Linked DNA regions of Homo sapiens: regions 1, 2, 3 and 4 are each linked to region 5. The links come from fine-mapping of genetic effects on gene expression. A gene starts in region 5. Each other region holds a variant in brackets. All regions are shown on one strand. Distances are between the middles of the regions. Region 1 has its middle 28 kb from the start of CCR9. Region 2 has its middle 12 kb from the start of SLC6A20. Region 3 has its middle 4.1 kb from the start of CCR9. Region 4 has its middle 62 kb from the start of CCR1. Region 5 holds the start of FYCO1 (FYVE and coiled-coil domain autophagy adaptor 1).

The links. PIP is the estimated chance that this variant, and not a neighbour inherited with it, causes the effect.
Region 1: its variant is the best candidate, but not a certain one, in a credible set for the expression of FYCO1 in tibial artery (GTEx, PIP 0.88).
Region 2: its variant is the best candidate, but not a certain one, in a credible set for the expression of FYCO1 in whole blood (INTERVAL, PIP 0.67).
Region 3: its variant is the best candidate, but not a certain one, in a credible set for the expression of FYCO1 in sigmoid colon (GTEx, PIP 0.77).
Region 4: its variant is the best candidate, but not a certain one, in a credible set for the expression of FYCO1 in whole blood (INTERVAL, PIP 0.56).

The regions. Positions count from the first base shown.
Region 1 is chr3:45,911,526-45,917,821 of GRCh38, forward strand. It overlaps a transcript of LZTFL1 not described here. Among named protein-coding and RNA genes, the nearest start is that of CCR9, 28 kb to the left of the region's middle. RefSeq lists enhancers at 3,744-4,943, 4,383-4,652. The variant C/T (reference allele first, on the strand shown) is at 3,093.
Region 2 is chr3:45,805,836-45,812,131 of GRCh38, forward strand. No RefSeq gene overlaps it. Among named protein-coding and RNA genes, the nearest start is that of SLC6A20, 12 kb to the left of the region's middle. The variant G/A (reference allele first, on the strand shown) is at 2,673.
Region 3 is chr3:45,879,247-45,885,542 of GRCh38, forward strand. It overlaps a transcript of LZTFL1 not described here and the pseudogene SDHDP4. Among named protein-coding and RNA genes, the nearest start is that of CCR9, 4.1 kb to the right of the region's middle. RefSeq lists a silencer at 1,043-1,199. The variant T/C (reference allele first, on the strand shown) is at 3,473.
Region 4 is chr3:46,143,262-46,149,557 of GRCh38, forward strand. It overlaps the pseudogene FLT1P1. Among named protein-coding and RNA genes, the nearest start is that of CCR1, 62 kb to the right of the region's middle. The variant A/G (reference allele first, on the strand shown) is at 2,769.
Region 5 is chr3:45,993,122-45,998,905 of GRCh38, forward strand. FYCO1 (FYVE and coiled-coil domain autophagy adaptor 1) reads right to left here and starts at 2,703. Exons shown (of 18, transcript NM_024513.4): 1 at 2,601-2,703. It overlaps LOC105377063 (a long non-coding RNA gene), which reads left to right and starts at 2,782. Exons shown (of 3, transcript XR_940799.3): 1 at 2,782-2,968. RefSeq lists enhancers at 1-456, 2,502-3,001, 2,502-2,551, 2,572-2,731.

The DNA of each region.
Region 1 (6,296 bases), 81 kb before region 5:
AGAGGCTGTTGTACTTTCTCCCCAGTTGAAGTTCAAGCACTGATGTTCCAGTGGTCAGTTTGCACCATATGATCTGGATATAGCTCTTCTCACAAAGGCCCTGAGTCAGGAGGACAGGGGGCCCTAGCTGGGCCAGCCCCTAGGCAGGGGAAGAGGAACTCTGGCCATATTGTGGCTTCCTCCCAGGCCCTCCCCGCTCATGGCTTTATGCCGTTCAGCTTTGCTGGTAAGTAGGTCACCCCTTTGGTGAATGCAGAAAGACATCAACAACTGTGTAATGACTCCAGCATATAGGAATTGGGCATTTGGTTTTTTACTGGGAATTTGAGATGGCCGTAAGATGATGTGAATGTCTTTTTAGAAATTAGTTTTCGCATTTTAAAAGTTAAACTGGCACCTACTAAAAATACTTCAAACGACATAGAAAAGTATAAAGAGAAAAGTAAAAGCATCTTATTCCTGCCACCAACTCCAAAGCCCCACCAGCTCCATCTGCCAAGGCAGCCACTGCTGTGTCCAGCGTCTTTGTCAGGAAATGTCGCATGGGTGTGAATAGTGTTCGTCACATAGTCTCCCAGGGTGCCGTCATATACTGCTTCAATCCAACCCACTTTGAACAAATCCTTTCCTGTTTTTTGCTATCACAGACATTGTGGCCATGAAGATTGTTGCGTGTGTTTTTGCGTACTTGTATGAGTGTATCTGGAGGAGAAGGTGGGTGTTTTACTGAAGATGAAAATTGAGGTGGAAATATGTGCAAGAAGGGAAGATTATAGACTCTTTGGTAGAAATATTACAAAAATGGTCCCAATTCTCTACCCCTCACTGTCCCTGTGCCCTTTATAAAGTGACTTTGCAGTTCCTCCCATCCAGAGGAGTCCCTTTTCCCACACCTGGAATCTGGGCTGGCCTGTGACTTGCTCTGACCAACAGAACACTGTTGAAATGATGTGCCAGGTCTGAGACTGGGCTTTGCGAAGCTCGGGCACTTTTACTCACTCTCTTGGAAACCTGCTCAGTGGCCATCTGAATAAGCCCAGGCTATCCTGTTGGGGTCAGGGAGACCACATGGAGTACAGCCAAGTTGTCTGGCCAAGACCATCCTAGCCTAGCCAGCCTTTCTTTGACCAACTGACCACAGATGTAGGAGTCAACCCCAGCCACGATTAGCCAATGAGCAGCCAACCCTCAGACATGTGGGAGCACAGCCTCAATGCGTAGCTGACCACGGGCAGACAAGGGAGTGAGCCCACCAAGAGTCCAGAGCCCCCAGTCAACCTGCATATTCGTGAGCAAAATAAATCTTCAGTGATTTAAGCCACGGTTTTGAGGTTATCCAACTTCAAATAACGCAGAATAATGCAGCTTGGTCTGACAACAGGTAACTGATACAGCCTTTTGTATTAACAATCATAATAAAGGTCTGAAGGTCAAGGGCTGCCATAGCAAATCCTGGTTTATGGAAAAGCTTTTTATAAGTCATCAGATAATCTAAATTCAAGTAAAATGAGAATGGTTTAGAGAAAACCACTCCTACAGCTGTCTCAGCATAACGCAGTAGCAGTAATATGTTCTGTAAATGGTTCAGACTTACCATCTTCCCTGGGTCTTGGTTCCTCATCTGTAAAAGTGGGCTGACTTACAGCAAGAGCCTAGAAAATTATACAATTACACAAATTAAACAATGCTACTATTGTTACTATTAACAAACCAGTGCTGCAATGAGCTGATCTTTCTCTTGTTTTTCATGAGGACCTGCCACAACCTAAAGATCCTTAACTTTTTTTTTTTTTTGGCCTCATCCACACCTTTGACAATCTGACAAAGCCTATAGCCCCTTTCTCAGAATGCTTTAAAATGCAAACAATAAAATAGAATTACAAACCAATTAAATTGAAACACAATTCTCCAAATATTAAAGCAGATATATGAACTAGTAATATATGTGTCTTTTTACTAATGCATTACATAAAATCTATCAGATCTAATGACAACCTTCATTTCCGAGTGGAGATAAACATAAATGATACTTTGAGAGTCTGCAGAAATTGTCATGTAATACAAAAATATCTGCCATTTCTACTGGTGACAAAGTGACAGGTCTAGCTAGTACTAGTGTGGCATGTTGTCTCTAGTCATAATTGAAGGAAGACTTAAATTTTAATTAGTAGTTAGGGTAAAGATGCCATTTTTTCCCCCACCCATTTTCAAAGACCTTTGATTCTGTGTACCGACCAGCTTAGGAACTCCCTCCTAAACTGACCTCCCCAACGCATACCCCCTGGATACTTTCTCCATTTCTTAAAATTTGGACATGTATGGAACTCTTCTGGATTTGGGGAAGGGGATGTTTTTCCACTCAGAAATGATCTGCCAGTTGGCACCAGAACCCTTGAATAAAAATATAAGCCATAAAAAAGTTATGGTTGTAAACTATTTTACCCTTAGAATAGTTTTATACCAGGGGATTCATTTAGAAACATCCTCCTCTCCAAGACTGAAATTTCCATCATTGCGCCCTAGTGCTTGGGCTAATGGATTTGAGGAAGACGGCCTGGTTCCAAGATTCAAGGATCACAGGTAGAGTTAAATTAGGAGACAGATCAATTAGTTCATTTCCTCCTTTCCTCAAATTCTAATCAAAACAGTGGTGACACAGCAACGTTCACCAGGACCACCTGCTCCAGCATCACCTGGAGGACCTGTGAATGGACCAGACCTGATGAACCAGAATTGGAATGGGTGGTGCCCATGGATCTGCATTTTTTTTTTTTTTTTTGAGACAGGGTCTCACTCTGTCCCCCAGGCTGGAGTGCAGTGGGGCAATCACAGTTGCAGCCTCAAACTCCCAGGCTTAAGGGATTCTGCCACCTCAGCCTCCCCAGTGGCTGGGACTAGAGGCGCCTGGCTAATATTTGAATTTTTTTTGGTAGAGACGGGGTCTCCCTATGTTATGCAGGTTGGCCTTGAACTCCTGGCCTCAAGTGATCCTCCTGCCTCGGCCACCCAAAATGCTGGGATTATAGGCATGAGCCACCACACCTGGCTGGATCTGCATTTTAATATGCCTTCAGGTAACTAAAGCAAGAGAA[C/T]CTTCTCCTAAGAATCTCTCTGCAACTTCCTTTTATTTACTGACACCTAATAAATGAACAGTTGACTCTGGAGCAAAACTGAGCCCTGGGTGAGTCTTGGGCTTTTCCTGATGGCTCAATACCTGAAACTTTCATAACCAAAGAAGATGGGGGCCTGATCCAGGACCAGTTCTGGTCTCCTTGTCCTTCTTCCACTGGTCACCTTCAGGGCATGAATGTGTGGTCCTCTTTCTGAGACCACCCAACAGCTGGGTGGCGTCCCTGCTGGTGCAGAGGAGCTGCCTCTTCCAAGACCTTGGGTTCCACATAGGAACCCTGTCGCTCATTCACAAGCGTCGTGGGAGGACTGGACTGAGGCTGCTGCCCCTGCTGCTTGTGAAAGCATGCAGGGCCCTGTTTGTGAAAGCTTGCAGGGCCCTGAAGCCACCTCTGAGGCAGAGGAACAAACCGGCTTGTCTTTCCACATCAGCAGTCACTGCCTTTGGTGTCTGTTCCCTCAATGGTCCAGGCTTCCTTACATTAAAGTGCTGCCTCCACCAGATGCATGGGGCAGCTTCAGCCACACCGACACCGTCATTTCTCACTGCCCCTTTCTTCCAATGAGAAAGATGGCTTCTGCTAAGCAGCCCTGGGTCCAGCCCTCCTTGCAGCCTTTAGGGAGGCCCTTTCTGTTACCCCTCTTTTCTCATCACTGCTTTGCTCTCCGATCTTTTATCCCCGCACCGCCCACCTCCGCCCCACCCTTCTCCCTCACCAGCTTTCCTCTCTCAAGCCAGGGAGAAGACAGCACCTGCCCCACTGACCTGGAAGACGGACGTTTTGGCCTCCCAGAAATGGCTTCCTTCTCTCCTCCGAGGCTCAGTCAGAGTCGGCCTTGGGAGCAGAAAGCGGGGGAGACCTCCTGAAATCATTTTTTCTGTGATGATTCTATGGACCCACAGGCCCGAAGACAGACCTGTCCTAGAAACAAGGACTTCCTTTTGGTAAGGACACTCATGCATCTCAGGTTTTGTTCATTTTTTAGCTAAAAAAGACTTAATTCATTCAAGGCTTTAGATGGGGCTGTCAACTCTTAGATAACCTCAGTGCCAGCATGGTGGGAGGTGTGAGGAAACCACACTAGTCTCCGACCTCCCCAGAGCTTGCAGGATGGGGGCGGGAGGAGGGGACACACATCAAAGCCCAGAGGTTGGCCATCACCCTTCTGCTCGCATTACCATCCTTCTTCAGAAAACAGCGGGTGTGGGAAAAGTAAAAGGCTGACCTTTCCCTCACCCCTAACCCACTTTGAATGTCTTTCATAATTGCTATGCTTTCCCCCCGCCCGGCTTTTGAGGCTTCAGCTTCAACTGCTGTCTCAAAAAAAGTCCGTTTTCTCATCTTGGGCTACTGGTTTCACCATCTGTTTGCTCTTCAGATGTGTGTGGGTGGCAAGAGGAGATTTTTCCCACGCGTCTTCAAACTGAAAGGGCTGACCTTGCTGTGAGGAGCCTTCTGAGTCACCCAGGAGTCTCTGCATCCTCAGCCCTCACCCGGCAGAGTGGCAGGGAGGGGCGGGGCACCTCTTTGTGCCACAGAGCCTGTGAACACTGAACTGGGCCCGGATTACCTGGAATCAAGCGTGGGGCTTGGAAACCCTCCAGCAAAGACTTGGGTCATCTTGAGTTATTCTGCAGTTTAGCAGGGTGGGGTGAGGTGGAATGGAGGATTTTGACCTGGAGGTCCCCAGATCCCAGCCCCAGATGCACAGCACACACATATATGTATGTCTCAACTGTTTCTTGTTCTAGCCCCCAGCCCATGAGGCCCCCAAGCCTCAGGAAGGACTGTTGTATTAACAAAGAAACTCTCTGGCTCTGTCATTTGGGGCAGGTGGAGTAACTATCTGCCATTACTGCAATCTGGTTACTAGATAGATACTTGATCTGAGGGTACCTTTTTATTTTTTTGAGACAGGGCCTCACTCTGTCACTCGTGGAGTGGCATGATCTTGGCTCACTGCAGCCTCTACTGAGTTGGGACTATAGACATGCACTACCACACCTGGCTAATTAAAGAAAAAAAAATGTAGAGACGGGGTCTCACTGTGTTGCCCAGGTGGTCTTGAACCCCTGGGCTCAAGCAATCCTCCTGCCTTGGACTCCCAAAGTGTTGGGATTACAGGCGTGAGCCACTGCGCCCAGCCCAAGGGCATCTTTGACATAAGAGGGGGTGCAGGGGGTGGGACTGAGTGACCAGCTATCATTGCCTGTATCTCCTCCTGCAGGCCCACCCTTTCCCTCCTCTGCCACCGGAGTGTTTCAGGAGCCTCTATTCCTGGCAGAGTTAGTCGCCAGTGGGAATGCTGATGACTTTTTGGCGACCCAGGGCACTGGGACTGACCCGAGAGGTCAATTCAGTATTTTTTGAGTCCCTTCCTGCCTGGCATGTTGCTCGATGCTGCGGTGGGGAGAGAAGGGAGGAGGGAGATGAAGATAAAGATGAAGGATTCACTGTCTTTTATCCTTGGGAGAGAACCAGAGTTACAGAAAATGTGACTTCTTCCATGGAGTAACAGATTAAAGAAGAGGCCAAACGAAAGTCTGGCAGCAGGAGAGGGCTGGCGGAGGAAGGGCGGTGAAGGGGTGGTGTGGGGAGGTGTTCTTTTGAGGTGCAGAGCACTGCAGGGACAGAGCCCTGGTCATCCCTGGAGTGGGGGTGTGAGGTGAGTGTGGGTGGGCTGCCCAGCCTGAGCTCAGTCCAACATCCAGCAGTGACCAGGGCATGCCCCTCTGGGCCTCTGTCCAGGCTCTTTGCTGACCCAGCCAGAGAAAGGTATGCGGGAATGGGAGGGCTGACTTCTTCCTCTGCCAGCCATCTCAGCCTGGCAGTCTTGCCCAGCTTTGTACCTCATATTGACCAATCATGGTTTTAGGCCATCCATGATGCTTCTCCCCAGCCCCATTGTTCCGGTAAACTCAGAAGTCTGCTCTTTGCTCAACATGCTCTGTGGGTGCCCTGGGAGATCTGGACATTTGAGCTGAGGCTAGAAGCCCATAGGGCACAACAGCATGGATTGAAAGACAGGCTGTCTCAGGCAGGTCTAAACACCACCCTCACAGCAGGCCAGGAAGCAGCCAGGTGCCAGGCCACCTGGAAACTTCCCAGAACATCTGCTGGCTCAAGTCCTCCTGAAAAGCCACCATAAAAGATGCTCTATTTCCC
Region 2 (6,296 bases), 190 kb before region 5:
GATTAATACAGATTATTAGAATAATCTAAAATGGAACTTCTACAAATAGCAATAATAGAAATTAAAAATTAAGTGGATGGATTTAAAAGTGGATGAGACACAGCTAAGGAGAGATTTGATGAACGCAAAGATATGTCAGAAAAAATTATGTGGCACATTGCACAGAGAGATAAGAAACAAAAACCAAGAAAAAATTTAAGATATATAAATAAGCTATGTAGGACAATGAAGTCTAATATATGCTTACCTAGAATTCTGGAAGGAGAAGAGAGACTGGAACAGAGAAACACTTAAAGTACAACAGCTCAACATTTCCCACCACAGATTCATGAAGCCCAGTGAATCCTACGTAGGATAAAAAAATGTAATGCCCATCAAGATGCCTCATGATCATGCTCCAGAACATCAGGGTGAGGCCCTTAACCCACATCAAAGGTCTCACCGCAGAGGAGTGTTTAATTTGTGGCATTTTGAAAAAAATTAAAAGGTAGAACTTAAATCTTGGACAGGTAAAATAGCATATGACAGATGAGTGGTAAGAGCGGAAATGTTCTAAGGAGGTGAACAACTTTAGACTTTGTGAAAGTATGCAAAGCAAACATTTCAAGTTGTCCCCAGATTTCTTTTATAGCTTTCCAGGATAGAAAGAATTCATACACTGCATTTGGTTGTTATGAATACAGTTGCTTTTAGGACAGTTTTCCCACCTTTTTATTTTCATGACATTGACTTTCTAAAGAGACCAGGCTAACTGTTTGAATTGTATAATGTCTTACATTCAGGATTTGACTGATTATTTCATTGTGGGGTCATTTAATATGGCCTTTTCCCCCTGTAACTTGCAGAGAATGTGTTAATTTAGTCTTTATATGGCACATGCATGCACGCACATACACACACACACACACACATTATAACATCATATAGGCACTTAGGCAATTAACTGTATTTATTATTGATGGAATTTTGAATTTAAAAAGTGTATAGGCTAGGTGCAGTGACTCACGCCTATAATCCAGCACTTTGGGAGGCCGAGGTGGGAAGATCGCTTGAGGCCAGGAATTTGAGACCAGCCTGGGCAACACAGTGAGACCCTGTCTTTGCAGAAAATTAATTTTTAAAAAATTAGCTAGGCGTGGTGGTACACACCTGTAGTCCTAGCTACTTGGGAGGTTGAGGTGGGAGGATCACTTGAGCCCAGGAGTTGGAGGCTGTAATGAGCTATGAATGCGCCACTGCACTCCAGCCTGGGTGACACAGTAAGACCCCATCAAATAAACAAACAAATAAATAATAAAATAAAAAGTGTACAACCTTCCTGAGTTTACATTCACCAAATGGGGCGTAGTGCTGACCTTCTTCACTGAGCTATTCCAAGCAATTTAGAATATTTGGCAAATATAACAAGACGCAGAGAGCCTCCAGGATCGGAGGAACTGCTGGCCAGAGCTGAAGGCAACATGGCTGCACAGAACTGGCACTGGGTTGGCAGCTGCAGGCTACAGCTCTGTGTTGCTGTGGCTCTGTTTCTGGCTACACTTCTGTGAGATATGATAACAACTAATGGGACACAGATGACTTGAATGGCAGCCTTAAAAATAAAGGAAAATGAAAAGACATCTAAGACTTGAAAGCAAAGAAAGCCTAACTTAAAATAATATAGGGAAATACTAAAATAAATGTTTGAACTTGTACTTCACCAGTATATACTGGTAAAAACTCAGGGCTTCCTGAGCCTCTGAGTAAGGTTACACAATGATTTTAATATTCTATATCCTTTTGCCTGTATGCCTACATCCAAAGGACAACTGTGTCAACTGAGTAACCTGAGTGGATTTTCTGTGAATTGATGCCTATTGTTGTCTGAAGTAACTAATTTGAGTAAACAACACAAAGTGGGCGTCCTTTCTAAAGGAACAAGAGGAATGGAACAAAGAGGCATTTTTCAGGTCAGAGAGAACAGATGCAGAAATGAGCTTGTTTAGAAAACATTGTGGCTTCTCACCACGATCACTCAGCTGATCCCTTGCATTAAGGAAGATTCAGCCACGTGCTGTGAAAACAAGGGACTCAGAGAGCAGTGTGGAATCCTTCCTTCCTTTTTGTTGGTCTTGGCTGAATTTATTCCTTCACCTCAAATATTTTTGCTGGGAACAAGCAATCAATACCAACTAGAAGGCATAATCTGGTGGAGAAAAACAGATGGAGCACTGTGAAAATATTTTCAAGGGTCAGGGTACACCTGGGGCCATGCTGTCTCAATTAGTGACCCCCTAAGGAATTTCACTGTGTCCTGCTGTACTGTTTTGTACTTGCTCTTTTCATTTCATAACAGGAGAAGCCCTGTGAATCTTACTCTGCCAGAAAACACACATGCTTTATTTCACAAGCTCGGTGGTTCAAATTATATTTGATTTCTTTCCCTGCTCCATACTCCAAATGTGGCCTAGCGATGGGCAGCGTCGGCATCGCCAGGGCGCCTGTGGGAAATGCAGACTCTCAGGCCCCTCCCAGACCTCTAGAATCAGAACCTATTTTTAAAAAGACCCCCCCAAGGGATTTGCAGGCAGGTTAATGTCTCAGGAGCACACAGGGTTTTTAACCCTGGCTGCACATCAGGATCCTATCTATGGAGCTTTAAAATACAGATGCACGAGACTCCCTGAAAAACT[G/A]AGCTTGGCAGAGGAGTCTCTTGAATGTTTGGCTTCTAGAAGCTTCCATGGTGGCTGATGTGGGATACCCTTCTCCAGAAGAGGAAGATCCCTACCAACACTGCCGTGCCACTCATTATTAACATTTCTAGATCTTCTCCCCACTGGCTCCCCTCCAGTTTCCATATCCCCAATGTCCCTTGTTTAAGGTCCACCTCTGCCTGCTCTTTCCCACTGTTAAAATTTCTCTTCTAAAATACATTCAGAGTCAACAGGAAAAGGTCTTAAAGATAATTTATCACAGATGCAACAACAATTTCTTCTCATGAACTTGAGGAGCCCAAAATCTTTTCCCTGCTTGCCAAGGTGCTATATTGTCTGAAAATAGCTCAACTGCCTGGGAATGGTTTTGTGAAATCGATTCCCTACTGTATTATAGGGAATTAAGTGCTCCCAAAACTTCCCTTCTGACTTTGTTTCCATTTCCCAATATACAGCCTACCCAGAATGACGTGTTATCATTGTCTGCCATGTTTTGTTTCATTTATGCTGTACTTTTTTTTTGGGGGGTGGGGACGGGGCAGATGGAGTCTCACTCTGTCACCCAGGCTGGAGTGCACTGGTGTGATCTCAGCTCACTGCAACCTCCACCTCCTGGGTTCAAGCAATTTTCCTGCCTCAGTCTCCTGAGGAGCTGGGATTACAAGCACATGCCACCACGACTGGCTAATTTTTTGTATTTTTTAGTAGAGACAGGGCTTCACCATGTTGGCAAGGCTGGTCTCGAACTCCTGACCCCAGGTGTTCCATCTGCCTCAGTCTCCCAAAGTGCTTGGATTACAGGTGTGAGCCACCGCGCCTGGCCTATGCCGTACTTTTTGTGTTATAATACAGCATATATGGCATACAGCATACTATGGAAAATAAATACATGTATAAATAATAATTATAAGACAAGTGCTCTTGTAGCCATCACCCAGGTGGTTGAGACTTGGTATAGTGTGTGGCCAGTTTTCATAAATATTCTGTATTTGCACAAAGAGAAAAAAAATTGGATGCTGCAGTTTGTTTTATTTATTAGGCCAAATCTGCTATTGTATTGTTCCTATCTTCTATATCCTTATGATGATTTTGTGTCTGTGCATTCCATCAATCACTGAGAGAAGTGTTAAAATCTTCCATTATGATTGTGAATTTTTCTATTTTCTTTTAATTGTGTCAATTTTTACTTTATAGAATCTGAAGCCATTAAGGACAAACTTTAAATTGTTATATCTTCTTGGAGGGTTAAAATTTTAATCATATGGAATGACTCTATCTCTAGCAGTGTTAAATTCTCTATTTGGATAATTCAGATTGTTGTGTGTTTTCTGCATACACAATTATATCATCTGTGAATGAGTTTTTTTTCTGGCCTCATGCTTTGGTTTAGGCCTCCACCACTATATGTATCTGTCATTGCTCCAAAGTCTCCCTGTCATTGAAGCCTTAGTGACAGCCCTATGTAAAATGTCAACTACCACCCCAACATTGTTTCTCTCTTTCCTTCTTCATTGTATCCCTTGGGCACTATTTGGCATGTTATATGTGTTTCTTGTTTATCAAGCCCGATTTGCTCATTTATTTAAGAGAGGTATCGAGTCTATGTGCCAGACCCTGTTCTGGATATGGGGGATGCAGCAATAAACAAGACAACCACAGATCTCAGCCCCCTCGGAGGATACATTCTGGTGGCGAGGCAGAAAATAGACAAACACCATGCTTCTACTTCAGTAAGGCCTGTCTTGACCACCATATTTTAAGAAAAACATCCCTTCTCTTGATTCTACTTTCCTTTCTACCTACCTTATGCCCCCCCTTTTTTTTTTCGCTTTACTGTTTTATAGCCCAGCCAATCAAGAGATGTCGATGCTTACTTTGTCTCCAAGTTTCTCTTGTTACTTCTCACAGTCACCTCAGCTAGGCCCCTCAGCAGTCCAACAAAACTATCTTGTCAAGGACACCAGTGACCCCCCACATAGCTAAATCCAACAGTCAGCTGTCCCTTTCCTGGACCTGCCAGCTGCATGCCACCCAGGTAATGATTCTTTCCTGCTGATGTGATTTGCCCAGCCAGCATCCAGGGAGACGCTCTCTTGGTCTTCCTCTCACTGGCCCCTGCTGTTCCATCTCTTTTGCTGATGTCTCCTCTTCCCTGATTCCTTGGGGTTGGAGCACCTAGGGCTTCTCACTGACACTCACCTCCTTGGTGTGCCTACCTCTTTAATGGTTTAAAAGCCCTCTCCACCGATAACTCCCAATGTTGTATCTCTAGTCCAGACCACACTTCAGAGGTCTAGACTTGTATGTCTGGTGCCTCCCAACATCCCCATTTGGGTGTCTGAGAGGCATTTCATGGTTGTCTAAAAGAGGATTTCTGGCCAGACGTAGTGGCTCATGCCTGTAATCCCAGCACTTTGGGAGGCCGAGGCAGGTGGATCACCTGAGGTCAGGAGTTTGAGACCAGCCTGGCCAACATGGCAAAACCCCGTCGCTACTAAAAATACAAAAATTAGCTGGGCATGGTGGCGGGCACCTGTAAAAATTAGCTGGGCATGGTGGAAGGCACCTGTAATCCCAGCTACTAGGGAGGTTGAGGCAGGATAATCACTTGAACCCAGGAGAAGAAGGTTGCAGTGAGCCAAAATCGTGCCACTGCGCTCCAGCCTGGGCGACAGAGCAAGACTCTGTCTCAAAAAAAAAAAAAAAAAAAAAAAAGAAAGAGAATTTCTTATCTTTGCCCACTTCCCTTCCTAAAGCCAGCTCCCTATCTCTGTTGACACCAAGCCTAGCCTAGCAGTTGCTCAGCCCCAAACCCTTGAAGTCATCCTGAGTCCTATCTCTCATCTCCTTTCAATCTGTGCTGATAGTCTATTAGTTTTCCCTTCAAAATATATCCAGAACCTAACTCTCTGACACTGCTGATGGGAGTGTAAATTGGACACCTGGAAAATTTGGGGGGCAGTGTCTACTAATATTGAACATTCATATATGCTGTGATCCAGCAATGACACTCCTAGATGTACATACCTACACCAAAAGATCCACACTAGACGTTTATATTAGCATTCTCTGTATTAGCCACAGACTAGCAAAACTCCAAATGTCCAGCAACAGTATGATGGATAAATTATGGAATATTGCCACTATACAGCAATGAGAACAAAAAAAAATTGCTACATGCAACAATAGGGATGACACTCACAAGCACAGTGTTGAAAGAAGCTGGACACAACAGAGTCTATGCTGTATGATTTCACGTACATAAAGTTCAAAAAGGAAGTCAGGAGAGTGGTTACCTTTGGAAGGAGATGGTGCCTGGGGGCCAGCACAGGAGGCCTCTAGGGGTGCAGATAATGAGTGATTCTTCATCTGGGTACCTTAGTGCTTTGTGCAAATTCTTTGAGCTGTATGCTTATGATGTGTGCACTTTGCGTACATAAGTTTTACTTAAATTGAAAAAGAAATCCAGCTTCAACCACCCTTATCACTTCTTTTTTTTTTTTTTGACAGAGCTTTGCTCTTGTTGCCCAGGCTGGAGTGCAATGGCACCCTCTTGGCTCACTGCAACCTCCGCTTCCCGGGTTCAAGCGATTCTCCTGCCTC
Region 3 (6,296 bases), 110 kb before region 5:
GAAGGAACCAAGATGTCCTTCAGCAGGTGAATGGATAAATAAACTGTGACACATCCAGACAATAGTTTATGTTATTCAACACTAAAAAGAAATGAGCTAGCAAGCCATGAAAAGACATGGAGGAGCCTTAAATCCATATCAGTAAGTGAGAGAAGCCCATCTGAAAAGGCTATATACTGTATGATTCCAACAAATACGGCATTCCGGAAAAGAAAAACTGGAGACAGTAAAAAGGTCAGTGGTTGCCAGGAGTAAGGTGGAAGAGAGGGACGAATAGGTGGAGTACAGAGGATCCTTAGGGCAATGAAACTATTCTGTATGTTATTTTAATGGTGGATACATGTCATACATTTGTCCAAACCCACAGAGTGTTCAATACAAAGAGTGAAACCTAAAGTAAACTACTTTGGGTGATAGTGATGTATGAGTGTAGATGAACTGATTATAACAAATGTGCCACTCTGATGCAGGATGTTGATAGTGGGAAGGTGGCACATGTGCTGCGGGAGCGGGTATATAGGAACTCTCTGTACCTTCTGCACAATTTTGCTGTGAACCTAAAACTGCTCTAAAAAACAAAGCCTATTTAAAAAACCCAACATTATTAACTGGAATTAATGATAAAAATATGTATTTAAAAAAACCCATAAGCACTTCTCAGTGAATAATGATGGTCATCACTAGAAATGTTCCCTGGGTGACGTTTAGTGTGTGTGTCCTCCTTCCATCAGGGGTGGCAGGAGGGAGGGATGTAAGCACCCTGAATCTACCATGATGCCTCCGTACAGGCAGAGGTCCAGAGAAGGGACAGTGACAGGCAGAGCTGAGGGTGGATCCTGCGGTGGCCTAGGCCAGCCCAGCCAAGGCAAGGCTCTCATTTAGACGTTTGGTTCTGGTGCCTGCAGAACCAAAGGTTTTGCTGTTTTTTTGTTGTTTCCCATGCAGCAATCAGTGATCTGTTAAAAATGGAAATCAGGCTAGGCGAGGTAGCTCAGGCCTGCAATCCCAGCACTTTGGGAGGCCGAGGTAGGCGGATCACGAGGTCAGGAGTTTGAAACCAGCCTGGCCCACATGCTAAAACCCCATCTCTACTAAAAATACAAAAATTAGCTGGGCGTGGTGATGGGCACCTGTAATCCCAGCTACTCAGGAAGCTGAGACAGGAGAATCACTTGAACCCAGGAGGTGGAGGTTGCAGTGAGCCGAGATCACGCCACTGCACTCCAGCCTGGGCGACAGAGCAAGACTCCATCTCAAAAAAAAAGGAAATCGGATCGTGTTATCACCTATATAAGTCCTTTGGGTAGCTTTCTGTACACCTGGCATCAGGTGAAAACTACTGGCCCAGCCTCAAAGCCCAACATGCTCGTGCCCCTCCAAATTATCTGGCCGCCCCTCACTGCAAGCTGTCCTCCTGCCTGTTGGTCTTTCTCATCCTTGGACACGTCAAATTCTTCCTGCCAACTGTTCCCTCTGCTGATAATGGCTGCTCCAATCTTCACATTGATGGGAACTTCTTGTCACTCAGGCCTTAAGTGTCACTACTGTAGTGGGCCTTTCCCAGACCATCCAGTGTGAGGGCCCCCTTCCCACGCCACTCCCTCCATCACCTCTGTCTGTACTGATTCTCTGCATGGCATTTGTCGCTATTTAATGTGCTCTGTCTTGCTGACTGCTACATCCAACCTCTTAGAACAGTGACAGCAAATAGTAGGAGCTTGACAAGTACATGTTGAATGAAGGATTCCAATGAGATCTTCCAATGAGATAATGCGTGTGAGGGCAGAAGGGATGATTTTTATCATTAATAGATGAGACAAATAAAAATAAAAAATCCTCTGACTGGTCTCATGACTCAGGTGCTGCAAGCACAAAACCTCAGGAGTTGAGGATGACACATATTTCCCTTATAAACAGCTTGTATTCTGCAGCAGCTTGGCAGCCACACCACTGAACTCTTGACCTCCCCTCTGAGCTGCAGTGGGGAATATCTAACGACCTGCTAGACACCTTCACTTCAACACCTCAGCCATATCACATCCAGTGCTACATGCATCACTATCTGCCAAAACCAACATTTCCTCCCACACACTTGCTCAGTTAAAGATACCCAAGTCTTCCCACAGCCTCCAACTGGTTTTGTTCTCTTCCTCCTGCAACATCTCATCATTTGGCAGCTCCTGAGGGGCACTTGGCCATGTCTGTCCTGTCCCTCCCATTCCTGCTGCTGCTGCAGGGTGCGGGCCCCCTCCTCCTCTCTCTCTCTCACTCTCTGAGAATTGCCTCCTAGCTGACACCGCGACCTTCAAGGGCTATTCATGGTAACTGAATTTAGCAAAAATGACTACTTTCTCCTCATTCCTGTCCTTTAAGGGTTTTGATTACTAACTGCGACACACGAAGAATGTGTAAAAATACTTTTAAGGGACCTTGCCCTTAAAAGTATCTACAGGTATTCTAGAAAACCAGTATAGCTAAAGCCTGCCCTGGCTTGAGTGCTACTGGGGAAGGAAGAGCTCAGCCTCACACCCTTCACCCCCTTGCAGAAGGGAGTGAGTCTGCCACAGGCCAGCTGCCCTGGCTTGCATCATAATGTGAGCTATCTAAGGCTAGAGCCGAGGTAGAAATATTAGCTGCTGAATAGCAGGTTGGTCTGGACCTGTACAATCCACTAGGGTGGCCACTGGCCATGTTGGCTGTTTACATTTCCATTTAAGCTAATTCCAATTAAATAACGATTTTAAAAAGATCACACTAACCACAGTGTCATGTTCACTAGCTATATGTGGCCACACACTGGACAGATAGCTATAGAATATTTCCACATTGCAGAAAGTGCTATTAGATGGCTCTATTCTAGATCCTCAAGACTTATATCAGGTGAATTTTTTGCATTAATTTAGTCAGAAGATGTTTAATATTCTCCTAGAATGTGCTGCTGGGCTTCAACCATGGCCAGTATCCACATAGTCCCTTTCCTCATGGATTAGTGGGGAAAAAAGGGTCCTTGCAGACTTTATTCCTTGGAAATTTGGACCTAGGACTCTTTTTACCTGCACTGATCATAATGTCACCACCAACTACTAACTGCCTCCAGACACTTTGGCTTTCCAAGTCAAGATAAGGCGTTAATCAATGAAAAGTAGAAAGACAGCATTGTCCTCTTCCAAAGACCCCAATATGCTTTTGAAATATGACTTTCCCAGTATGTACAGGAGGCTAAGGAAGGAGGAGAACAAGATTACAAATCTATAGTAGTTTTCAATTTGGGGAACCTAAAAAGTAGAGGACTGAAGTAAAATTAATTTTTTCTGTGCCAGAGACTGTGCTAGATACTTGGTATATTGGAATGAACAAGAGGTAACCGACTTGATCATATATTGTAATGAACAGACTCAGCACTCCTGTTGGCCCCTGCAACAAAGTCAGCTTGGGTCTTTTCTCTGTTACAGGTATCAGCGTTGTGGATTGC[T/C]GTTTCTAGTCCACAGTTATTCCTGAAATGCTCTTCAGTTGCCAGGTACAGCACTTGGTCCATAACCCAAAGGGGATACTATTATTATTATTATTATTATTATTATTATTATTATTAACATTTTTTTAAAAATTTCTTTTCATAGAATGCATTTTTGTATTAGAGATTCCTCTAGTGGGAAAATAACAGTTTATTACTTATAGTTCTATATTTGTGGACAGATCGTTTTAGAACAAGTAAAACACATTTGAGAATGAAGTCTCAGTTTAGAATTTGTAATATTTTGATACTTCTACAAGGGGGACCTTGCCCTTAAACAGAACTTTGCTATACTCAGAAGCATTCCAAGCTTTTCTTCCTAGGATTTAGAAATTCATAATGTGAGATATCAGCATTTCCTAATTTTCAACTTCCCCTAGAATATGTAACCATCAGTAGCTGGTGTCTACTGAATAGAGAGGGAAGTTTTTGAAAATTAAACACGGTCTCATTTTCTGCAAAGTTTTTATTCATGAATTAACAGTATTTCTCTTTGCCCATTATTCCCAAGGCAAGTACAGAAGAAATTTGATCATGTAGTAATAGTAATAAAGCTGGATTCTCTTTAAGAGATTGATAAATTCAAAGGCAAAAGCTCATATATCATGTTGAGTTATATGTGAGTCTTATAAGAAGCTGGGAGGCAACCCCGTTAACTCACCAGAATACAGACCTCAGTCTCACAATTTCTTGGACATAATTCTTCTCAAACCTTTTCCTCAAAGCTTAAATTCTGAAAATAGTCTGGTGATTAAGAGAAGATGGCTGTCCACCAATGGATTTATCTGTTATTTCTTCCTTATTGTGAGTTGAATGGCGTGACAAAGTGAAGGCAAAGAGGCATGCATTAATTCTTCAAAGTATAAGTCAAAAAGGTCAGCGCTTCTACAATGTGGCAGTATCTTTGCAGATGCCCACATCATGATAGTTGAAAGAGCAAAGCCCAGAAAAGGCTAAAGCTGAAAGTGCCAAAAGGCCTGCCTTGGCAGCTTTCTGCAATGCATCCCCATGAACACAGTCAGGAACAACTTGTCCAAGGCCCCAAGACCATGAAGAGTGAGAGTTGCAGCCACGGAGTAGGCCATCACAGAGCAAGGATTCAGTTAAGCAGCTAGAAGCAGGCCCAGGAGCAAAACACTGACAATCCTCTCACTAGTCCAGTGGACAGATGCAGCCTTGGAACCAGAAAGGTGGCTCAGTGACAAATGAATGTGCTGCACTCCACGCCATTCTGGGGTAGGTTGGGTCCTGAAGAAATCCTGAGATCTGAGCAGGTCTGACAACTGGGGCTCGCAGGAACAGAGCTCAGCCTCCTTGGGCACCACAGAGGGCACTCAGCCTCTAGAGAACCTCCATCTCTTCCCTCAGAGTATGCTTATAGTGCCCTGTCCTCCAGAACTCACCTTTGGCAGGGTGAGAATGCAAGAGAGAAATAGCCCTTAGAAAAGGGGACCAGCAACCTTTTATAGTCACCCAGCTCTGAATTCTAGTTGCAAAGAAAGAAACACAGCAAAGAAAACAAGAGGATAGGGCTTTTTTCAGGAATGGACCTAAACTAGATTGCAGCAAAGGGAGTCACATTTGCACAAGCTCCTTTGAGAAAGCGGAAGTTCTCTCTATGACTTCCTTGCGTCTTCCCTTCTCCCCAGCCTCATGATCCTCTCTGCATCCCAGGAGAGGGCATGTGAGTGCTCTAGAGCAGCTCTTCCAGACCTGGATGGAAGAACCTACCTAAGCTTCCCCACCTCACCTGGACCACGGGGACCCGTGCAGAGGAGGGAATCTTCCCACACCGGTGCATTTACCCCTTCTCCTCTTCCCTGACGGCCAGCCTCACCTTCCTTCCTCCCCCGAGACTCACTCCAACGTCTAGGGGCAAGCAGTGTCTACCTTGTATGCTCTTACCTGATGAGGAAACAGCCTGAGTCAAGAGAAGGGAGAAGCACAGGCTTTTCCTCACCCATGGCAATTGCAATAGTGCGTGTCTCACCTCGCTGCAAGCTTTCCAAGGACGCAATCAAACACGGGGGAGAAACAAATTCAGCCAAGAAAGTCAAGTAAGGGAACATCTTCTTCCCTCTAGCACCAGTTCCTTTTGTGTCTTTATTTGCCAAGTGAGAGGGAGGAGTGAGATGCCAGAGCATCTGGCTGGTTCTCAGCTATGTATAGTTTCAGACACCATTTATTTGCAATGAGCGCCCGCCGAGGGAAGGGAATTTCACGGCTCCCTCGCACCGCCGTTCCTTAAGGCTGATGAATCAGACACCTCTTTCGTTCTTACTGTGCATGCCCTCTACCTTTCAGATGACCTATTTGTTGGCCTTTTTCCATTTAGACAATAAACCCAAGTGCACCTTCTGCATCCCTTTGCTCTACGGGAACTGAGGGTGATGAAGGGGACATGCGCCTGGGAGTACCACGCCATGACAGAGCGGCATTGAGTCCTCGGGACAATCAATACACCAAGAGGTGGAAATTAACATCCACAAGAGTGTAGTCATGATTTTCCCCCAGAACAAATATATAAAAGGGATCTTTGTCATAACAATGACAGGAAATCATTAATCACATCAGGATTGAAGTCCCCACTGTAGCAGTGGATGGGAAGACTTCGTCTGTGATCTTCATTAAAAATGCAATATTTTGTATATTTAGCTTTTTTCAAAGTTTTACCAAAACACCTGTAATTAATACAATTTATTGTATTATCTTTGTTAATGTATCTGATGTGCAAAACCTTACTAGATTTGCCCCAATTTGAAGGTGTCTGTGGCTTTCCAGCACT
Region 4 (6,296 bases), 150 kb after region 5:
AAATCACAAATCTTCACCACATTGTTCTCAGATAAAAGAATGTTTCTTGCTGCCAGGTCCCAATGAATGCACTTTCTGGAAGACAGAAACTTCATGCCTCTGGCCACTTGAAAACTGTAAGAAATCAGATCTTCCATAGTGATGGGCTCCTGGTAGAAACCATCAGAATCCTCCTCTTCCTCAACATCACTCAGATTTTTATCTTCCTGAAACTTGGAGCTCCCAAAGCTCTCGCTGCTGGTGATGCTATCTAGTTTTGGTTTCTTGCCTTGTTCCAGGCCTGGCTCCATTTTTTCTTTCTTACGCTCCATGTGTGATGCCACATCCTTGTCGAGAAAAAATAAGTCATATTTGCTCTTGAGGTAGTTGGATAGATTTCCATATTTGCAATATTCAACAATCACCATCAGAGGCCCTTTGTTTGCTGATCTGACCCCAGTCTGAAGGAAGCAAGAGGGTTGAGAAGGAAGTCCAGCTGCACCGTGGGGCCCATGTGGTGCCCTGAAGGCCTCCTCTCCCCTGCCCTGCATTTCCACTGCATGCCCGGGCTGGGCACACAACCCCTTATCTTCTTTTTTGTGTTTTATTCTACACATAAGACACTACTACAGTAGAACACATCTGTAAAAATAAACAAATGCATATTCATATGTCAGAGGCACATGTCCAGAACTGTTGTTGATGGCAGCATGCAATCAAAAGCGCAGAGGCCTTTGCTTCCTACTCCATCCTGCAGCCTTCCCTGTGGGGCAGGGGCGCTGTGCCAAAGGGGGCTCCGGGCAGCCCTACCTCCCTCCACTGCTTTGGATTTGGTCCACATTGAGCTTTCACTGTCCCTGCTTCCTCTTGGCAGAGATTCTTCCTCTTTTCCTTCACTCTGCAGGATCTGAAAGGACACAGACTCCTTTCCAAAGAATGCTGTGTATTGAAATGCAGAGAAACAGAAAGTAGATCACAAAATTAACTCTGTGGAAGTGGTTACAGGACATCTCAAAAGGTCTTGGCATCAGCTGTCCCTGGTCTCCACTCAGTTCTGCCCTCCTAGGTCTCCTTTTGTTCTTTCTCAATGAGCCCCACAGAAGTCCTCTTCCTTTTTCCCTTTTGCACACCCATGTACACATCCATGATCACACCCCAGGCTCCATGACCCATGACCCACCTCTGTGCCCACTACTGCCTGCAGTGCTGCCCAGGCCAGGGAACGTTGCACTACTTTGATCTCTATGGTATTGATCTTTGGCTTCCACAAAAGAAGGGAAGCGGGCACAGCTCAACAATGCCAATTAAATTTTTAGTTCTCTTACAGAGATTATTTTATAATTGATTACAGAACAATGTTCTATGTAGCATTTACTGCTTAGTCAATTTTAAGGAAGAAAACACTGGTTAGGATTGCTAATGCGAAGGTGAATGGCAATGGTGAAGGTTCAAATGGATCTTGACAGACTGGGTCACTGAACTGAAAATAACAAGATGAAATTTAAGGAGAAAGAAAGTAAATCTGGGAATGCTCTGATACTTTAAAAAATAGCCAAATACAAAAATGAGATGGTAAGCGCTGTTGATGGATATCAGTTCAGGGGAAACAACTATTTTGTGACTAGGTCATAAGTAAAAAAGGCCTACTTACAACTAGGCTAATAAGAGCCCATCTTGAGACACTTGCTAGAAAAATGATTGTGAAGAGCTGATTATTACCAGGCTTAGAAAACAAATGTAGTCTACTCTCCTACCATCTACCCAGCACTTGGGAAGAATCAAAGACTCACTATGGATAGTTTATCTTCGGGTTGAATGAACAACTGGTTTTGGAATATATACAATGATCACCACACATATAATTCAGCAGCCCCATTACACTAAGTAACGGTCAACTCTTTTAGATGTGGAGGGTTAGCAATAAGGTCTCAATTCTGATTCTGGTCTTTTTCCAGATGCTTTTCTGTCTTCAGTATCTGCTGTTCAGTTCTTAGGTCTTGGGCTACTCAGAAGTTGGCTGACTCAGAATAAGGACACCCTGTCCTTGTGAACAAATGGAAGAAAGTGAGGTCCTAGTTACTGAAGGGGAATGTGAAAGGAGCTGGATGACCTTCTGTTGACCTATTGCAGAGGGTATTCCTGCACTGGAATTGACATTCTGCAGAGTCTTTTAGTCTCCAAAGGGGTCAAATGTGGAACCAAAAAATTGAGAGCATTTTGACTCTAGTCTTGTAACATCTCGCTCAACAGTTGCCAAACAATTCTGAAATAAAATTTTAAATGTTAAAAAAATCAGATGCTGTGAGGACATCATGGTATCAAGCATCTGGATGGAAAAAGAGGAGTAAAGTACTGACTCCTAATAGATTGGATGGCTAGCTCTAGGAAGGATGGAAATTGTGACCATGGTGTCTGTATTATTTTCCCATTGCTGCTGTAACAAATTAACAAAAATTTAGTGGCTTAAATTAGTGCAAATGTATTCTCTTACAGTTGTGGAGGCCAGAAGTTTGAAATGAACCTTATGGGACTAAAATCAAGGTGTTGGGAGGGCTGGCTCCTTCTGGATACTCCAGAGGAAAATCTATTCTTTGTCTCTTTCAACTTTTCTTGGCTAATGGCATTCCTTTGCTTGTGGCTGCATCACTCCCATCTCTACTTTTGTTGTCACACTGCCTTTTCTTCGTTAGTATTCAGATCTCTCTCTACCTTCTTCTTATATTCTTGTGATTATGTTTAAGGCTTAGCAGGATAATCTCCCCATCTCAAGATCCTTGACTTAATCACAC[A/G]TGCAAGGCCTTTTTTGCTATATAAGTTCACAGGTTCCAGGATTAGAGCCTGGGTATCCTTGGGGGCAAGTATTCAGCCTCCCATGGTATCTTTATAAGAGGCCTCTTTCCTTTAAGCAGAAGGTGCTCATTCTTGGAAGCACTTGTGGTTGCCTTTCATCTTGAGGGTGGCAGGAGTCTCTAGCGCCACAGTTGTACACTACAGTATCTTTGGGGGCCAGCAGGGGTACATGTGTAGTTACAGACAACAAAAAGAAGTGGTGCCTACGGCTATATAAGGAGTACAGGGCATCCAAATATGATGGTATTAACATTAAAACAACTCACATCACTGCTGCTAGTCAGATACCATCAGTGGACTAGAGTTTAATAGTTTCTTATTTTGTACACATTCACTTTGTGTTTTTTATTGTACTGAAACTCCTCAAAAAGTCCAGAAAAGAAATTCCTTAAAGAATATTAACCTACATTTCTTTCAATTGAGAGAAGCCAGGGCTGGCCTCTAAAATCTACATACTCATAAGCTCAGATGGAAACAAAAATCAAATTCCAAATACAGGAAATGAGGTTTTCCACTAAAAGATCTTCAGTAATTCTTCCATCATTCAGTCATTTACATGTTTAAAAAACCCCACGAGTTCCTTATTAATCAGCCGCAAAATAACTTTAGTCATATTTGACCAAGCACATATCAGACCATCTAGAAGGTGTTCACCTTTTGCAGAGTGAGTTCTGTATTGGGGAGTTCCGGAGGAAGTAAGAGAGAGTTGTTGCCCTCTGCAAAAGCCATAATATGACAAGAGGATGCAGTTTTTAAAAATCATACGCATGTACCCTTAGCATTTTGGGCTTTACCAATGGGCATGAACAAGTGTGCTCCTGTTGACATTCATGTCCATAATTTGATGACTTTGAGCTCCTGCCTACTTGTCAAAAAGCTACTAAATCTTCTACCAAGTCTTATTTCACAAGATTTCTGGCACTTCCAGGGAGGTTGCAGGTGTCCATTCATCAGGCCTGGGCTTTGTTCCCCGACACAACCAGCAGAGCAGTAGTCCCCAGACACAACAGCTCTCAGAGCTGCCACTCCAAGCCAAACCTCCACTCCTGGGGGTAGAAATTTGCAGGGCCCAGTGAGGGTACGAAAAGCCCTGATTTGTCCACTGGCATGAGTGAGGGAAGGAGGGTTGGATATGCATGCGTGTCGGTTTAGTCATTCAGCAATGTCTGCGGTGACGGGGACAGCTGCCTGCTGGCGTCCTTGACACCTTCCTGGATCATGGTGTAACAACAAAACCAATGAAAATCAACCCCCTTGAGGACATGTTGGCCAAATGGTACAAACTTTCAGTTAAGAGTAAGTTCTGGGGACCTAACATACAGTATGGTGATGATCATTAGTAATACTGTATTGTAGCAGTTCCCAACCTTTCTGGCACCAGGGACCAGTTTCATGGAAGACAAGTTTTCCACAGACCCAGTGTGGCGGGAACGGTTTTGGGATGAAACTGTTTCACCTCAGATATCAGGCATTAGATTCTCATAAGGAGTGTGCAACCTAGATCCCTCATATGCACAGTTCACGATAGGGTTAAAGCTCCTATGAGAATCTAATGCTGCCGCTGATCTGACAGGAGGCAGAGTTCAGGTGGTAATGCTGGCTTTCCCTGCTGCTCACCTCTTGCTGTGCGGCCCAGTTCCTAACAGGGCATGGACAAGTACTGGTCCATGGTCCAGGGGCTGGGGACCCTTGCTGTATTGTATACTTGAAATTCACTAACAGTGTCGATCTTAAGTGTTCCCACCACAGTGATAAGTATGTGAGATGATGCATATGTTGATTAGCTTGATTGTGGTAATCATTCACAATGCTTATGTGTATCAAAACATCATGTTGTATGCCTTAAATATAAACAATTTTTTTTTATCAATCGTCCTTCAAAAATCTGCTTCAGGAAAAACAGAGTATTTTACGGTGAAGAATCTTGAAAAATACTACCTCAGCCAGATGACCAGTTAACATGAACAGGCATGAGGGATGTTGATTGTCTGTGCCCTTGATATCATGTGATGAGATAGGGACTCTGCTTTGTGGTCTTCGTCCCCAAAACCCATGCCTCCAGTCTAATTATGAGAAAAACATTAGACAAATCCCACTTGAAGGACATGCTACAAAATACCTGACCAGCACTACCAAAACTGTCAAGTTCACCAATAGAAGGAAAGTCTGAGAAACTGTCACAGCCAAGAAGAGCTGAAGGAGACACAACTACTAAATGTAATGTGGCATCCTGGACATAGAGAAAGGAGTGCTAGGTAAGTTGAAATGAAGTAAAAAATGTTAAGGGCAGCCAGAGAGAAAGGTCGGGTTACCCACAAAGGGAAGCCCATCAGACTAGCAGCGGATCTCTCAGCAGAAACTCTACAAGCCAGAAGAGAGTGGGGGCCAATATTCAACATTCTTAAAAAAAAGAATTTTCAACCCAGAATTTCATATCCAGCCAAACTAAGCTTCATAAGTGAAGGAGAAATAAAATACTTTACAGACAAGCAAATGCTGAGAGATTTTGTCACCACCAGGCCTGCCCTAAAAGAGCTCCTAAAAGAAGCACTAAACATGGAAAGGAACAACCGGTACCAGCCACTGCAAAATCATGCCAAATTGTAAAGACCATCGAGGCTAGGAAGAAACTGCATCAACTAACGAGCAAAATAACCAACTAATATCATAATGACAGGATAAAATTCACACATAACAATATTAACTTTAAATGTAAATTGGCTAAATGCTCCAATTAAAAGACAGAGACTGGCAAATTGGATAAAGAGTCAAGACCCATCAGTGTGCTGTATTCAGGAAACCCATCTCACGTGCAGAGACACACATAGGCTCAAAATAAAAGGATGGAGGAAGATCTACCAAGCAAATGGAAGGGGTTGCAATCCTAGTCTCTGATAAAACAGACTTTAAACCAACAAAGATCAAAGGAGACAAAGAAGGCCATTACATAATGGTAAAGGGATCAATTCAACAAGAAGAGCTAACTATCCTAAATATATATGCACCCAATACAGGAGCACCCAGATTCATAAAGCAAGTCCTGAGTGACCTACAAAGAGACTTAGACTCCCACACAATAATAATGGGAGACTTTAACACCCCACTGTCAACATTAGACAGATCAACGAGACAGAAAGTCAACAAGGATACCCAGGAATTGAACTCAGCTCTGCACCAAGTGGCCCTAATAGACATCTACAGAACTCTCCACTCCAAATCAACAGAATATACATTTTTTTCAGCACCACACCACACCTATTCCAAAATTGACCACATAGTTGGAAGTAAAGCTCTCCTCAGCAAATGTAAAAGAACAGAAATTATAACAAACTGTCTCTCAGACCACAGTGCAATCAAACTAGAACTCAGGATTAAGAAACTCACTCAAAACCACTCAACTACATGGAAACTGAACAACCTGCTCCTGAATGACTACTGGGTACATAACGAAATGAAGGCAGAAATAA
Region 5 (5,784 bases):
TCAGAACCACACTGATGTACACATCCTCCAAATGGCATCCGGCCTAATGAGAAACAGGCCCTTGGTGCCTTTCAAATGCCACAGAGATCCAAGTGAACAGGAAGGACCACTGGAAGTTACTAAAATCAACAGGTTGACTGGCTCCCATGTGAGAAAAGGGATAAAACTGCTCTTGCCTAACTGAGCACAGCTTCTGCCATCATCCTCTTCTCAAAGCCATGGGGCCCATTTGCTCCAAGGCAATGGCTCTTATTATGGGGGTAGTACAGACATTTCAGCCATTTTTGTGATGTATCAACGAACAGCAAGAAGGTAAACAGCATTTCCATAGGTAGAACCACAGAAACATTCCAATTCCCACCCTATTGATTTATTTAATTGCTCAGATAGAGGCTCTTATACCAATAAAGACTTCTTATTTTCTTGAAACTGGCATTGAGCTCACAAACAAAATACTGTTTATCTTTTGACTAAGACAAGAACATAGCAGTCATGACGTGAGCAGATGTTGCCCTGACCATAATGGACTCATCTGTGCTCACAAGTTGCCTCTGTAATCACAGGCACCAGTTAATGACCCTTACCTGCTGCCTAGGGCTGCTTGCAGTGAACGTGGTTCCTAAATCTAGGTGCCTACCAGTGATTTCCACCATAAGACCACAGCTAGACAACACACTTCCTCTGCCTCATGTTTAAAGACATTCTAGTCTTGAGTCACCAAAGCTGTGTCTTTGGAATCTTCAGTAAACAAAAGTTACCTATCAGCTAAACATCTCCCCTAAAGGGAAGCAGGGTGGGTGGGGGTGAGGGGGCTGCCATTTCTTGCGTACCTACTTTGTATTCTTGAGTCAGCAGTCCATAGCCTTGGTGACCAATATGGGTCAAAGCTACCAGCTGCTCTGATCTTGCTCTGTTATGGGTGATTCCTCTCATCACAAACATCTATGGGGGCCATCCCCCTCAAAAAGGACCAGGTTAAAAACTTGGCTCCTGAAATTATACTGGTGCTCCAAACCCAGCCCCAAGGGGCAAAGGTCATCGGAACAACAGCTAAAGGATCACTGCCTGAGACTGTTACCAATCTCTAAAGTAACTGCAAAAAAAAAAAAAAATCAAAGTAAAATATTAAGAATTGAGTATACGGATATTCACCATACAATCCTTTCAGTGATTCTGTATGTTTATTTTTCTAATAAAATATTAAAAACAATTTAAAAAGTAAATGAAGTGCTACACAAAGATAGTCACTTTGAACATAAACAGATAAACTCTATTTCCTAAAGCAAGAGCCTTTAGGAGAGATCCTATTAATCAAAGGAGGCTGAGATCCATCACTGTGACAATTAGCTCTTATTTTCAGGGTGATAATAACCACGGTGCACAACTAGTATGGGGCATTCAATGCTTTCAGAACAGTGGTTGTCACAGAAGGGAGGGTCAAGTGGAGCTCACTCAACAGGGGTCCACTTCAGAAGGTGGGAACTACTGAAAGCAGAAAACCTTGGCATGATAGCTCCAGCTCCCCACCCCTCCCCCACACCAGCCCCCAACACCCTCCAGCCGCATTAGGCAGATGGCAGGGGAATTAAGCTTGCAGCCTGAGACCACAAGGCCTGCACGGGCAGGAGAACCAGTGAGCAGATTAAGCCCTGGATCCTCTGCCCCGCAAAAGCCCCTGACCCATTTCTCTGTCGGGAAAGGAAACTGCTGTGGTAAGACAAGCAGAGGGGCTGAGAGGCTCTGGCCAACACAGGCAGTTTCAACAAGTGTTCTATTTTTTTTTCTGGAGAGGACACCCAATGGGAACAGTGAAGAGTGACAGGGACATCAGAGAATACATGTGCTTTAACAGGGGGCCACGCGGTTAACGTGTCAACCACATGTGCTTTTCTTACAAAAAATAAAATCCCGCCATCCTCCCCCCTCCCCGCCCCACCCCCGCCAGGTTTCAACAGCACGGACTCCAGTCCAGTGCAGTGCCGCCACACCAGAGACAACAGGTGTTTCGGGAAAAGACCCCTGGGGGCTAGCTCGAGACCCTGCGCATGGGCACAAGGGGCAGTGGATAGTGAATAGGTCTTGGCCAAAGGATGGGCCAGGAAGAAAGAAGCTTCTTCCCCTCCTGGGAAGAGGGCAGAGATCCGAGCACCAGCGGAGTCTTGCAAAGTGAAGGTCTGGGCTGTCCCGGCCCAACTGGGCCAGAGACTAAACTTCCTAAAGACCACGCAGGCAGGAACTCCGGGGCCTGCCCCATCCTGCGCTAAGACATTCAGGCTTGTTCTGAGACGCCGCATGGTGGGCTCCTTTCCTTTGCGGGCCCTCCGCCCTCCGGGGTCTTGGAACTGGTGTTTGGGGTCTGTCTTTCTAACCGACCAACAGAGGCAGGCTGGGTGCCTGGGCCGGCTTCCACCTGCCCGAGGTGCTTCCCGGCCCGCTGGGCAAGGACGGGGGCGCTCGGGCAGGGTCTGAGGGAGACCTGGGATGGGCGGGGACTGTAAGGGCAACAGGTGACAAGCCGCGCCCCGAGCGAAGCTCTCGCCTCAGGGATCGTGAGCGACCCAGGTGCCCCCAGAGTCCAGCCGGTCTTCCGCGGCACTTACGCGCTCGTGGGTCCACCGCCGGGCAGAACCGAAACTTTCTGGGGCCAAGCGGAAGAGGACGGGAACGCGGTGCTGACGGCCATGACGCGCACACCAAGAGGGTGGCGGGGGCGGACTACAACTCCCGGCGTGCTCCCCGGGGCTGAGGCCTGCAACTCCCATCGGACTCCCGGGGCTCCGACTACAACTCCCGGCGACTCCGCAGGGCGGGGTTTAAGTGCTCCCACCGCCCAGTCCCCGGACCGACTGTCCCACCCGCGACCCATGCTGGCCCCAGGTTAACGCCTGCAACCCCGGAGGGCCACAAATCAAAGGTCTGGCATCTTGACAACAACGCTGTTCTTGTGTGGCTAAGGAGCACTCCAAAGGTAGCTAGTTCGAGTTGAATCGTGCACGTGCTGTAAGTGTGAAATACACCTAGGTACCAAAGAGTCCGAAGAATGTTAACTAGCTCATTAATTTTTAGTGATTGCATGTTAAAATGATAATATTTTGATATATTGGGAAATAGAAAAACATGTATTGGTGGGCCTAATTTCCCATCTTTTAATCCCCCTTATTTCTTAATATCAGGGTCTTACTTAAAATTAGTGCTCAAAAACTACGTGTTTATGAACTACCACCCCTAACTTTGGCCCCATCCTCAGCCCAACTTCTATTTATAAGATGGGTGTTGCAAAGCACTGTGGAACTGAATACGATAGAACAAAATGCATTCAATCAGTGTCCGCTATGGGCACAGTAGAAAAGAGGAACACTACACGGGGACTTTGGCTTCTAACTGACTGCATTCCTTAGCTGTGGCTGGCTATCCTTTACTCTCTGCCCTAGTTCTCATCATTTAAGCCAGAAACAGCTCTCTCCCTTGTAGGACCTAGCTCGTGGTATCCAGTCAGGAACCGTGGTGGCCCAACATTCTAAACTGAGGAAGCAGGGTGTTGTCTGGGTACAATAATACAGAAAGAAAATCAATTTCTTAGTCGATTTTAGGCTATGACATCTCATTAGCCATCTAATTTTATAAATTAGATGTAGCTAAAACAGTGAGTTGGATGGATGGAGTAGTCAGTTTGGGGGTGGGGTTGGGAGGAGGTACATGAATAGAAGTGATTTCCACTCTTGTTAACAGAAAGGAGAACAGAAAGAAAACGGGGGGAGTGAGAAGATGACAAAGAGAAAAGTAATCAATGTAGTGGTCTAAGAGAAATCATTGCTCCAACCACTGTCTGAACAGCTTCATGCAATATTAAGGATGAGAGAGATTTTAATGTTGGTCATCTGGTCCAATATCCTTGTTTGAAACTGTGTGGGGAAAAAAAAACCTCCCTCAAACCGTATTTTTCCTCTACTCTTACACAACAGCAATCATCAACACAGGAGAATAATTTGGTGACCAGATGTGTGTGGGGTTTTCCCCACACACTGAGCAGTGGACCGCACCTGGGTGTCCTCCAATTCAATTCCGACACTATCTACCTGGAGTATCAGATCCCACAAGTGGAGGGCTCAGTCCCCAAGACTGCCTCCTCACCTTTAAACACCAGTTGTAAGTCTAGGCCTCCAGAATTTTGGAATGACTGGCTTCAAGTTGAGTTCCCACGACACCCTCTTTGGGTTCAGCTAATTTGCTAAAGTGGTTCATAGAACTCAGAGAAACACATTTACTGGTCTATTATAAAGGATACTGCAATGGATGCAGATAAAGAGACACGTAGGATGAGGTGTGGAGGAAGGGGCGTGGGGCTTCCATGCCTTCCCTGGATGCACCACTCTTCAGTAACCTCCACGTGTTCAGCTATCCCGAAGCTCCCCGAATCCAGTCCTCTTGGGCTTTTATGGAAGCTTCGTGATGTCAGCATTGCTTCCCCCAGGGTATAGGGGAGGACCCTCTCTTGGGAGGGTCTTAAGACCTATAATCAGAAAGGCGGGGGAAGCGGCTGGGCACGGTGGCTCACGCCTGTAATCCCAGCTCACGCCTTGGGAGGCCGAGGTGGGCGGATCACCTGAGGTCGGGAGTTTGAGACCAGCCTGACCAACATGGAGAAACCCCATCTCTATTAAAAATACAAAATTAGCCGGGCGTGGTGGCACATGCCTATAATCCCAGCTTCTAGGGAGGCTGAGGCAGGAGAATCGCTTGAACCCGGGAGGCGGAGGTTGCGGTGAGCCAAGATCGAGCCATTGCACTCCAGCCTGGGCAACAAGAGCAAAACTCCATCTTAAAGAAAAAAAAAAAGAAAGAAAGGCGGGGGAAGATTAGAGTCCTGCCTTAAAGCAGGTGAAAGGAGGGCAGAAGGCCAGAGAGATTCGGTTTCCTGAAGCCTAACATACCTAACATAACAAAAGACTGTAACAAGGGCTATGGGAGTTATGAGCCAGGAACCATGGAAGAAAACCAAGATAGATAGATAGATAGATAGATAGATAGATAGATAGATAGATAGATAGACAGACAGATAGACAGACATCATAATACCACAGAAACTTAAACCCAAAAGGAGTTTGAAAAGAAAAGGAAAACAAACCTAATATTTATTGAGGACCTATATGCCAGTCCCTAGCCCCCCAGCAAAAAAACAAAAAACAACAACAAAAACCCATTCAGCATTATATTTAAAACTTGCAGCCACTTGGTGACATAATTAGTATTCATTATCATACTTTGAAGATGAGGAGATGAAGCTCAGAGAGGTTAAATGACTGTCCTGGTCCACCCACCTAATAAGTGGTGGAGAGTGGTGGAGGCTGGGGTAGAGCTGGGGGCTCCTGAGGGGTCTTCTGTCACCCAGCACACTGTCAGATACAGGGAAGGTTAACAAAATCACTACTGTTCAGGTAGTTTAACTTGGATTTCCTTTATAGATACAGCAGAGTATTTCAAACTATAATCTTTCAAACAAACATACAAACAAACGCAGCATATTCTTGTGTTCTGATGTGAATACACATTAAGAGATCAGATTCAAAATCACCAAATCCCCACACCCTCTCCTTACAGCCTTAACAAGTGGCAGAAGAGGAGACTATTCCTCACGGGAAGCTGACCGTGCCCACGGCCCTGAGGAGGGATGAGGCTCTTGGAATGATTGTTAAGGGCTTTTTATGTGCCAGGTGCCATGTTATGTGTATTCCACACCTGGTTTAGTTTTATCCTTATATCAGTCTCATGATACATAATTATCCA